Linked DNA regions of Homo sapiens: region 1 is linked to region 2. The links come from fine-mapping of genetic effects on gene expression. A gene starts in region 2. The other region holds a variant in brackets. All regions are shown on one strand. Distances are between the middles of the regions. Region 1 has its middle 16 kb from the start of ANAPC7. Region 2 holds the start of GPN3 (GPN-loop GTPase 3).

Region 1 (5,373 bases), 49 kb before region 2:
GTCCCAGCTACCAGGGAGACTGAGGCAGGGGAATCACTTGAGCCCAGGAAGTGGAGGCTGCAGTGAGCTATGATCCCACCACTGCACTCCAGCCTGGGTGACAAAGAGAGACCCCGTCTCAAAAATAAATAAATAAATAAAACAAAAATCCCAAAACTCCAAATATGCCAAATCGATATATCAATTATTGAGTTAAAAAGCATTAGAGAGGCTGGGCACGGTGGCTCACGCCTGTAATTCAAGCACTTTGGGAAGCCGAAGCAGGCTGATCACTTGAGCCCAGGAGTTCAAGACCAGCCTGGCCAACATGGTAAAACCCTCTCTCTACTAAAAATACAAAAATTAGCTGGGCGTGGTGACGCATGCTACTCAGGAGACCGAGGCATGAGAATCACTTGAACCTGGGAGGTGGAGGTTGCAGTGAGCTGAGATTGTGTCACTGCACTCCAGTCTGGGTAACAGAGTGAGATTCTGTCACCAAAGAAAAAAAAAATAGAGGAAGTAAAGTTTCAGAAACAATGAGCTGACCACTGTTTTCCTGCATGTAACAAGTGATGAGGATTTATCTGGAAAAGGTACCCTCTCCATATAAGAGCAAGAAAATAGCCCTTATCTCCAGAGACTTAAAACTAAAGGCTACAATGGACCTCCATAAACATACTTAACAAAGTTACCTTTACTTTCACCAGTTTGGCACTCCCCCCATTTATCTCCTAGTGACTCCCCTGAAAAATTTACTGCCCCAGCCAGATTTTCTTTGTCCTGTCATTTCTTCTCAAGTATATTGCTCTTTGTCTAAAACATATAAAGCATCTTATTTGGCCACTTCTTCAGACTTCACTCTTTTTTTTGTGTAGACCCCCCCGTACACGTGAAACAAAGTTTGTACACTTTTCTCTTGTTAATCTGCCTGGTGTCAGTTCGTTTTCGATCCAGCTCAAAAACCCACTAAGAGTTAAAAGAGGGGCTGGAGGTGATCTCTGGGTCCCTTGCAGTGTAGCGGGCTAATTTAGGAATCAGACCGACGGGTTGAGGAGGATACTTACTATTTAATTATTTAGGTGCACCAACCCAGTCGGATTAACATCCAAAGGACTGAGCCCCTAACAAAGAGTCAAGTTACCTTTTAAGCATTTCATGGGGCAGGGGGAGATCTGTGCAGGGGGAAGCATATTACAGAAGTGAGAAACAAAGACAGTTATTCAGTTGAGACATGCATTACATCATTTCTTTTTTTTTTTTTTTTGAGACGGAGTCTCGCTCTGTCGCCCAGGCTGGAGTGCAGTGGCGGGATCTCGGCTCACTGCAAGCTCCGCCTCCGGGTTCACGCCATTCTCCTGCCTCAGCCTCCCAAGTAGCTGGGACTACAGGCGCCCGCCACTACGCCCGGCTAATTTTTTGTATTTTTAGTAGAGACGGGGTTTCACCGTTTTAGCCGGGATGGTCTCGATCTCCTGACCTTGTGATCCGCCCGCCTCGGCCTCCCAAAGTGCTGGGATTACAGGCGTGAGCCACCGCGCCCGGCCGCATTACATCATTTCTTACTTTTCAAGGAAAAACATGTTTTACGACTTGAGTTTATCTATCTACTTACCTTGCAGCCACACAGCTAGAGAAACAGAGTCTTCACAATGCCTGGGAAAGGGAGAGATAAGGCTCACTAGCCACAGACAGAAAAACAGGCAGTTAATTTTTAAAGGACTCCACCTTTTTCTCTTCCTCAGGGGGAATTGGGTTTTCTTACATACAACTGAGTTTTTGCTTACACATTCTTTAATTTCTTTTAATTCCTGTTCCAGAAGCACTATATAAATGTTTGCTATTATACTTTTTTCTTTTCTTTTCTTTTTTTTTTTTTTTTGAGACGGAGTCTCGCTCTGTTGCCCAGGCTGGAGTGCAGTGGTGTGATCTCATCTCACTGCAAGCTCCGCCTCCCGGGTTCATGCCATTCTCCTGCCTCAGCCTCCTGAGTAGCTGGGACTACAGGCGCCCACCACCATGCCTGGCTAATTTTTTGCATCTTATGGAGAAATAGCCATAGCATTTAGCAACATGAAAGTCACTGATGATGTCAACAAGAACATTTTCAGTGGCGCTTTGGTAAAGAGAAGGAGACAAATGTGAGACAATGCATATAGATAATTCTTTTATTTTGAGATGGAGTCTTGCTCTGTTGCCCATGCTAGAGTTCAACGGCATGATCTCGGCTCACTGCAACCTCTGCCTCCCAAGTTCAAGTGATTCTCCTGCCTCAGCCTCCCCAGTAGCTGGATTACAGGCATGCTCCACCATGCTCCTGCTAATTTTTGTGTATTTTAGTAGAGAAGGGGTTTTACCATGTTGGCCAGGCTAGTATTGAACACTTGACCTCAGGTAATCTGCCTGCCTTGGCCTCCCACAGTGCTGGGATTACAGGCATGAGCCACCTTGCCCAGCCAATAATTCTTTTTTTTTTTTTTGAGACGAGATCTCGCCCTTTCGCCCAGGCTGGAGTGCAGTGGCACGACCTTGGCTCACTGCAACCTCCACCTCCTGGGTTCAAGTGATTCTCCTGCCTCAGCCTCCCAAGTAGCTGGGATTACAGGCATGTGCCACCTGCCCGGCTGGCTAATTTTTGTATTTTTAGTAGAGACGGGGTTTCACCATGCTGGCCAGGCTGGTCTCGAACTCTTGACCTGGTGATCCGCCTGCCTCGGCCTCCCAAAGTGCTGGGATTACAGGCATGAGCCACTGTGCCCGGCCAATTATTTTGAGGAGTTTTGCTGCAGAGAAGTGGTTCTCAACTGGGGTGGAGGCAGGGTGGTGACTGTATTCCTAGGGGACATTGGGCAATGTCTGGAGACATCTGAGGTGGGGTGGGTGTTGCTTCTGGCATCGGGTAGATAGATACTAGGGATGCTGCTAAACATTCTTTAATGTATAGGACAGCCCCCCACGGCAAAGTGGAGGAGAAATTTACATTCATGCCAGGCATGGTGGCTCACACCTATAATCCCAGCTACTTGGGAAGCTGAGGCAGGAGAATCACTTGAACCCGGAGGTGGAGGTTTCGGT[A/G]AATCTAGATTACACCATGGCACTCCAGCCAGGGTGACAGAGGGAGATTCTGTCAAAAAGAAAAAAAAAATTTTTTTAATTCATATATTTAAGTAGCCAGTCCAAAATGTCAAAGTGTCAATGTGGAGAAGCCCTGTTGTAAAGCAAAGGAGGACATGGTTGGCAGCAGGTGGGTGAAAGAGAGGATTTTTGTTTTCTGATTGGAGAAATATCATTTTTATATACTGATGGGAATGAAGGAGAATGTATCACTGGCTAACTGGTAGAAGAAAGGTTGAGACTGGGCACAGTGGCTCAGGTCTGTAATCCCAGCACTTTGGGAGGCCAAGGTGGGTGGATCACTAGGTCAGGAGTTCAAGACCAGCCTGGCCAATATGGTGAAACTCCATCTCTACTAAAATTACAAAAATTAGTTGGGTGTGGTGGCGCATGCCTGTAGTCCCAGCTACTCGGGAGGCTGAAGCAGAAGAATCGCTTGAACCCGGGAGGCAGAGGTTGCAATGAGCTGAGATCGCACCACTGCACTCCAGCCTGGGTGGCAGAGTGAGACTCAGTCTCAAAAAAAAAAAAAAAAAAAAGAAAAGTTGATAATTCCTGCAAAGAAATAGAGCTAAAACACACCTGTGAAACTGATAAACTCACACAAAGAATGGATGAAGCAAAAATATTTATAGAGAAAAAATTAGAGGCAAAGGGGGACCTACCTCCTCTGGAAATTTTATTTATTTATTTATTTATTTATTTTTTATTTTTTATTTTTTTTGAGACAGGATCTCCCTCTGTTGCCCAGGCTTGAGTGCAGTGGCACAATCATACCTCACTGTAGCCTCAACTTCCCAGGCTTAAGTGGTCCCTCCACCTCAGCCTCCCAAGTAGCTGGGACTATAGGCATGCACCACCACACCAAGCTAATTTAAAAAATTGAGTGTGTGTGGAGATGGGGTCTTGCTATGTTGCCCAGGCTGGTCTTAAACTCCTGGGCTCAAGCTGTCCTCCTGCCTTGGCCTCACAAAGTGCTGGATTACAGGTGTGAGCCACTGTGCCCAATTTTTATTTATTTATTTAGAGTTGTGTCTCTCTCTGTCACCCAGGCTGGAGTGCAGTGGCGAAATCATAGCTCACTGCAGCCTTGACCTCCTGGGCTCAAGCAATCCTTCCACCTCTGCCTCCTGAGTACTTGGGACTACAGGTGTGTGGTACCATGCCCAGCTAATCTGGAAATTTCAAAATATTCATCTTGAAAATCAATTTATCAAAGAGAGGGTAGGTTCTACGGTTAGGTCCCATTAATATGATGTAATTCAGATCATACTGATTTTGTTTTGTTTTGTTTTGAGACAAGGTCTGGCTCTATCACCCAGGCTGGAGTGCAGTGGTGCAATCACAGCTCACTGCAACCTCTACCTTTCGGGCTCAAGAGATAATCCCACCTCAGCCTTCCAAGAAGCTGGGAGTACAGATACCTGCCACCACGCCTGGCTAATTTTTTTTGGTAGAGACAGGGGTTTTGCCATGTTGCCAGGCTGGTCTTGAACTGAGCTCAAGCTGAAACAGGAATTAAAATAAATCAAAAAATGTTTAAACAAAAACTCAGTTGTATATAAGAAAACCCAATTCCCCTTGAGGAAGAGAAAGAGCTGGAGTCCTTTAAAATTAACTGCCTGTCTTTCTGTGGCTAGTGAGCCTTATCTCTCCCTTTCCCAAGCATTGTGAAGACCCTGTTTCTCTAGCTGTGCAGCTACAAGGTCACTAGACAGATAATCTCAAGTTGTAAAACATGTTGTTCCTTAAAAAGTATGAAATAATGTAATGCATGTCTCAATTAAATAACTGTCTTTGTTTCTTGCTTCTGTAATATGCTTCCCCCTGCACAGATCTGCCCCTGCCCCACGAAATGCTTAAAAGGTAACTTGACTCTTTGTTCAGGGCCCAGTCCTTTGGATGTTAATCCGACTGGGTTGGTGCAGCTTAATAATTAAATAATTCCTCCTCAACCCCTCAGTCTCTCTAATTCCTTAATTATCCCGCAGCAAAGTGATCCACCCGCCTTGGCCTCCCAAAGTGCTGGGATTACACACATGACCCACCATGCTTGGCCAGATCATACTGATTTTAATAATATTCAAAGGACATGTATGGTGTTAAAACAACTTGGGACACACAGGAGATATATCCAAGGAGACTAGGCCTCCTCTTCCTCATGGAATCATATTCAGAAAGGATAATTTTGGAGCTGGAGGGCGTGTTAGAGGTTATCTTCATTTTATGTGAGGAAACAGAAGTCCTGGGATGGTAATTGGCTGTGAATCGTTAGGTCAG
Region 2 (5,373 bases):
GGAGTTGGAGACCAGCCTGGCCGACATGGTGAAACCTCGTCTCTACTAAAAATACAAAAATTAGCTGGGCGTGGTGGCGTATGCCTGTAATCTCAGATACTCAGGAGGCTGAGGCAGGAGAATCGCTTGAACCCGGGAGGCAGAGGTCGCAGTGAGCTGAGATCACACCACTGCACTCTAGCCTGGATGACAGAACAAGACTCCTGGCTCAAAAAAAAAAAAAAGTCTCTAGGCTACTTGTCTGTGTCATACTCTGTTTAAAGGCAGAGATGTGTCTTATTCAGTTTCCCAAGCACAGGGACTAGCGCAATACCTAGTACATAATAAATACTTGATAATTGTTTCTAATTGACTTATTATGTTTAAAGATAAGCTCCACAAGGGCACGGATTTTGTGTGTGCATGTTTTTTTCCCCATACAACCCCCAGGGCCCAAAACAGTGCCTGGGATAAAGAACGTACTCAAGGAATGTTTCTGATAGTAAGCATCAAAAGCTTATAAAGATACTTGTTTAATACAATCAGCCCAAAAATTAAAATAGACTATAGAAAAAACATCCATCATGCTGTCCTCTCAGTGCCTTTACACATACTGTTGTCTCTGTCTGGAATGCCCTCTCCATACATCACACACTGTATCTTTTTTTTTTTTGCAAAGGGTCTCACTGTCACCCAGGCTGGAGTGCAGTGGCACCATCATAGCTCACTGCAGCTTTGACCCAGGCTCAAGCGATTCTCCAGCCTTAGCCCCCCGAGTAGGTGGGACTATAGGCTCTCGCCACCATGCCCAGCTAATTTTTGTATTTTTGGTAGAGACAGGGCTTCACCATGGTGCCCAGGCTGACCCTGAACTCCTGGGCTCAAGTGATCTGCTGGCCTCAGCCTCCCAAAGTGCGAGGATTACAGGCTTAAGCCACCACACCTGGCCACATCACACTGTATCTTAATTGACAGGTCATCTATTTGTCTTCCCCAAAAGACTACAGACTCTGGGTAAGTTAAAGGCCATAGGTATCTTAGTTACATGTACATGTTTTTACCCAGAATAAGTCAACAGCTTAGAACAATGTGTTTGTTAAAGACTGAGGCCACACAACACCTCCACAGACTCTAGTGTTTCCACACTTCTTCTTTTTTTTTTTTGCGACAGTACCTCTGTCACCCAGGCTGGAGTGCAGTGGCACGATCACCACTCACCACAGCCTCAACCTCCTGGGTTCAGGTAATCCTCCCACTTCAGCTTCCCGAGAAGCTGGGACTAGAGGTACCTGCCACCAGGCCTGGCTAATTTTTGCATTTTTTTGTAGAGACAGAGTTTCGCCGTGTTGCCAAGGCTGGTCCCAAACTCCTGGGCTCAGGCGATCCGTCCACCTCCATCTCCCAAAGTGATAGGATTACAGACGTGAGCCACCACGCCTGGCTATGTTTCCCACACATATGTTATTTGATCCATATCTTCACCATTCTCACTGTATTTGAATGTTCCTAACATTCCCTTAATATTTGTTTACAAGAAAAAATTTTATCCCTACTGTAAACTGAAAACCACTTATATTTGACATAACGTGAAATTAGACATAAAATTATATAAAATCTTTAAATGTTCTATTTTTAGCTAAATACAGGTGCCTATTAAAAGCTCTGAGACTAAGAACTGCTCTCTGAAAAGACCTGGGGATTAAAGAAGTGCTGAAGATACACACTAGCACCGAGCACAACTTCTCCTAAATGCGAAGTTGAGAACTGAAAGAGAAATGAAAAGGGAACAATTTCCCTAACACATTATCTGATGCTCCTTAATGTGGGGTCCATGTACCACCTACCACCTAAAAGCACCTTAAATACCAAAAGTCCATGTCCCAAGTTCTGAGAAACAGTAATTAATGAGACCCCACTTTACCCTCCTGGGAGCGAGACAGGGCCGGATTCTGGAGTTGAGACAAAACTGGATTTATATTTTTTTGCGGGGCAAAGAACTTAATTAACCTTTCTGTATCTCGTTTTCTGTAAAATGAGAAAAATGAGATCTCTCTCACAGGGTTGTTGTAGAAATAAGCGAGGCGTTTCATCTGCTGCCTGGGGCTTAAGTATACAATAAATATTAACAACTACCATTATTTCCCTTTCAAAACAACAACAAAAAAGAACGTGAAGCCAGACAGCAGAAATGAGTTGCGTGGGGTCTCAGGGTTCCCAGTACACACACCCGCCGGCTCACTCCCTCAGGACCCAATCTCCCGCCTTCCACGAACTCCTACTTTTCTCTCCTTGTCCCCGCAGATCCTCACCTTCCCGCTGCCCGCGGGGCCCATGACCAGCTGCGCATACCGAGGCATGTTGGCTCCCGGAGCCGCCCGCCACACTCCCTTAGCCTTCGCGCGACGCCCACTGAGCTCCGGGAAAGTGAAGTGCGAACCAATCGCAATCCACATTCTTTCTACGCCTCCAGTTCTACCACACCTCCTACTACGGGGCAGCCCGCGGGCCAAATCCCGTGAGAAACGCGTCCTGAGAAAAAAGGGGAGGGGCGAGGGAGAGGATTTGCGCGTGCGCAAAAGTAGTTGATGGAAATCGGCCGTTGGGATGCTGTCTAAGCTTGGATACCTGAGTAATAACGGACAACAGATAAAGCTCCGCATCCTTGCGCCACGTGCTTCGGTCCGTGGTTTGCGTGCAGACGTTTGACCTGTATGGTGACCCTCGCGATTTGCAAATGTGCTGAGGATCTGGAATACTGAAGTGGAAGGCACCTCTTGTTTTGGGGAGCATGTATATTTCCCTCCTGTGACGCACTGCTTCCACAGAGAGGTGCAAACGTGCAAACGCTCAGCGACCGCAGCGCTCCTGCCCCTCCCCCACCGTAACTCCGGGGTCGCGGATCTGCCCGCCCCGCTCTCCCGAAGCTGTTCGGGCAGTGTCCGAACGGCTTCGGAGGGGCGAGAAGCCAGCATCCGAGCCGCCTCTCCGGAATACCAGCAGCCTGACGCACGCGTGCTGTCGGGGGAGGGATGCTGGGACAGCTGCTCCCGCACACGGCTCGCGGTCTCGGCGCCGCGGAGATGCCCGGCCAGGGTCCGGGGTCCGACTGGACGGAGCGTAGCTCTTCTGCAGAGCCGCCCGCTGTGGCCGGGACCGAGGGTGGCGGCGGCGGGTGAGGTTGGGGGCCCCGGGGTAAGGGTGGCAGCATGGGGCCCCCGGGTCGTGAGGCCCCCGGGTCGTGAGCCCCGTGGAGGAGGGCTGCGGCCGACCTCTCGTCTCGGGGGCTGGCCCCGGTGCCCTCAAGTGAGAGGCGGGGAGCAGTTTTGTTGTGGACAGAGGGCAGAGGGGAGGACTGCCTCGCGGTTGAGGGAGGGTCTCTGAGGGAAGCTTCGGAGGAGCGTTTGGTGCAGTGGCCACGAGGTGACTGCGACAGTCGCCCGCGTGCATCTCTCTGCCCCGAGGGGGCGCTGCGAGCCCTGCTGGGACGTTTGCTGTCTGGCACAGGACTGTGTGTCCACCGAAAGGCGAGGCGGGAGGGACAGAGGAGGAAGATGTCCCCCGGTTCAACTGGGGGCATCCAGGCCCATAAACCAGTTCCTTCCCTCTAGTGACATGAGCCACCTTCCTGTCAAACGGGGATTTCTTTTTCTTTTTTTTTCTTTTCTTTCTTGTTTTTTGAGAGCGAGACAGTCTCGCTCTGTTGCCTAGGCTGGAATGCGGTGGTGCGATCTCAGCTCACTGCAACCTCAGCCTCCCAGGTTCAAGTGATTCTCCTGCCTCAGCCTCCCGAGTAGCTGGGATTACAGGCGCCTGCCACCACGCCCGGCTAATTTTTGTATTTTTAGTAGAGAGGTGGTTTCACCATGTTGGCTAGGCTTGTGTCGAACCCCTGACCTCAAGTGAGCCGCCCGCCTCGGCCTCCCAAATTGCTGGGATTACGGGGTGAACCATTGCGCCCGACCTCAAACGAGGATTTCTAATCGCCAATGAGACCAATGACTGAATATCCGAGGTGCCTTGATCTTGACATTTTCTTCACACTGAAGTTCCTTTTTTCACAAATCTATTTCGTTTTGAGCAGGTTTTTACACCTATTTCCTAGATAGTGAAGACAGCGAGCTGTTGAAGTCACTGCTGGAGACTCTACCTCCTCTTCCTCTCCCTACTTTATTCCCTAAAAGCAAGAACTGCGATATGTTTGCCGTTCAGTACAACCCGCAGTCAGGGCCCCTGTTGCACCCATGGCCATCCTTTTTGTTTTTTTTTTTTTGAGACAGAGTCTCGTTCTGTTGCCCAGGCTGGAGTGCAGTGGTGCCATCTCAGCTCACTGCAAGCTCCGCCTCCCGGGTTCACGCCATTCTCCTCCCTCAGCCTCTGGAGTAGCTGGGATTACAAGCGCCTGCCACCACGCCCGGCTACTTTTTTGTATTTTTAGTAGAGACGGGGCTTCACCGTGTTAGCCAGGATGGTCTCGATCTCCTGACCTCGTGATCCGCCCGCATGGCCGTCCTTTTTGTCTCTGGTGCTACTGAAGACTTCTTAAAGATGGGATGGAGTCTTGGGTTTCTTTTCTGTTCTTCACAGTCCTTGGCCGACTGCAGGATCCTGGTGTATCAGGAGATACGTGAATTTTTTTTTTTTTTTTTATTGAGACAGAGTCTCCCTCTGTCACCCAGGCTGGAGTGCAGTGTCACGATCTCAGCTAACTGCAACCTCCGCCTCCTGTGTTCAAGCAATTCTCCTGCCTCAGCCTCCCAAGTAGCTGGGACTACAGGTGTGCGCCACCACGTACCTGGCTAATTTTTGTATTTTTAGTAGAGATGGGCATGAGCCTGTAATCCTGGAAGGTTCTATTATGATCCCCACTTTATGGATGACAAAACAGGCACAAAGAGGTTGTTTGTCCTTTCCTTTTATCTCCGCCTGTCGTTCATCTCCATGCTTCCTTTAGTTTATCCAAACTCTTAAAACTACAATTAAAAAAAAAGACAGTATGCCCTTCAGTTTGGTTTAAGGAACCCCATTAAAAAACACAAACCAAGACTAATTTATGAAAAGCTTATATTCCCAGAAATACAAAATAAAATTTTCAAACTAGAATCAGGTTTATTATGCTACATGATACAATGTTGGCACTGGCAGGGGTCTTAAAAATCATCAATTCCGGTCATATTTACTAATCTGAAAGGGGAAGTGATCTGCCAAAAATCCCATTATTAACTAATGGGAACTCCGGAACTCCTTACTTTTTTTCTTCTTTTTTTTTGAGATGGAGTCTCGCTCTGTCACCCAGGCTGGAGTGCAGTGGTGTGATCTTGGCTCACTGCAACCTCCGCCTCCCAGGTTCAAGCGATTCTCCTGCCTCCTGAGTAGCTGGGACTACAGGCACGTGCC

Evidence for each region. PIP is the estimated chance that this variant, and not a neighbour inherited with it, causes the effect. A credible set is the group of variants that fine-mapping cannot tell apart.
Region 1: its variant is the best candidate, but not a certain one, in a credible set for the expression of GPN3 in monocytes after LPS (Fairfax 2014, PIP 0.78).

What each region holds. Positions count from the first base shown.
Region 1 is chr12:110,416,835-110,422,207 of GRCh38, forward strand. No RefSeq gene overlaps it. Among named protein-coding and RNA genes, the nearest start is that of ANAPC7, 16 kb to the left of the region's middle. The variant A/G (reference allele first, on the strand shown) is at 3,055.
Region 2 is chr12:110,465,868-110,471,240 of GRCh38, forward strand. It overlaps GPN3 (GPN-loop GTPase 3), which reads right to left and starts at 2,390. Exons shown (of 8, transcript NM_016301.4): 1 at 2,289-2,390. The coding sequence starts at 2,336. It overlaps FAM216A (family with sequence similarity 216 member A), which reads left to right and starts at 2,978. Exons shown (of 7, transcript NM_013300.3): 1 at 2,978-3,151. The coding sequence starts at 3,009. It overlaps LOC124903016 (a long non-coding RNA gene), which reads right to left. Exons shown (of 3, transcript XR_007063459.1): 2 at 4,772-4,949; 3 at 4,422-4,584. RefSeq lists enhancers at 2,502-2,631, 3,552-3,721 and a silencer at 3,042-3,351.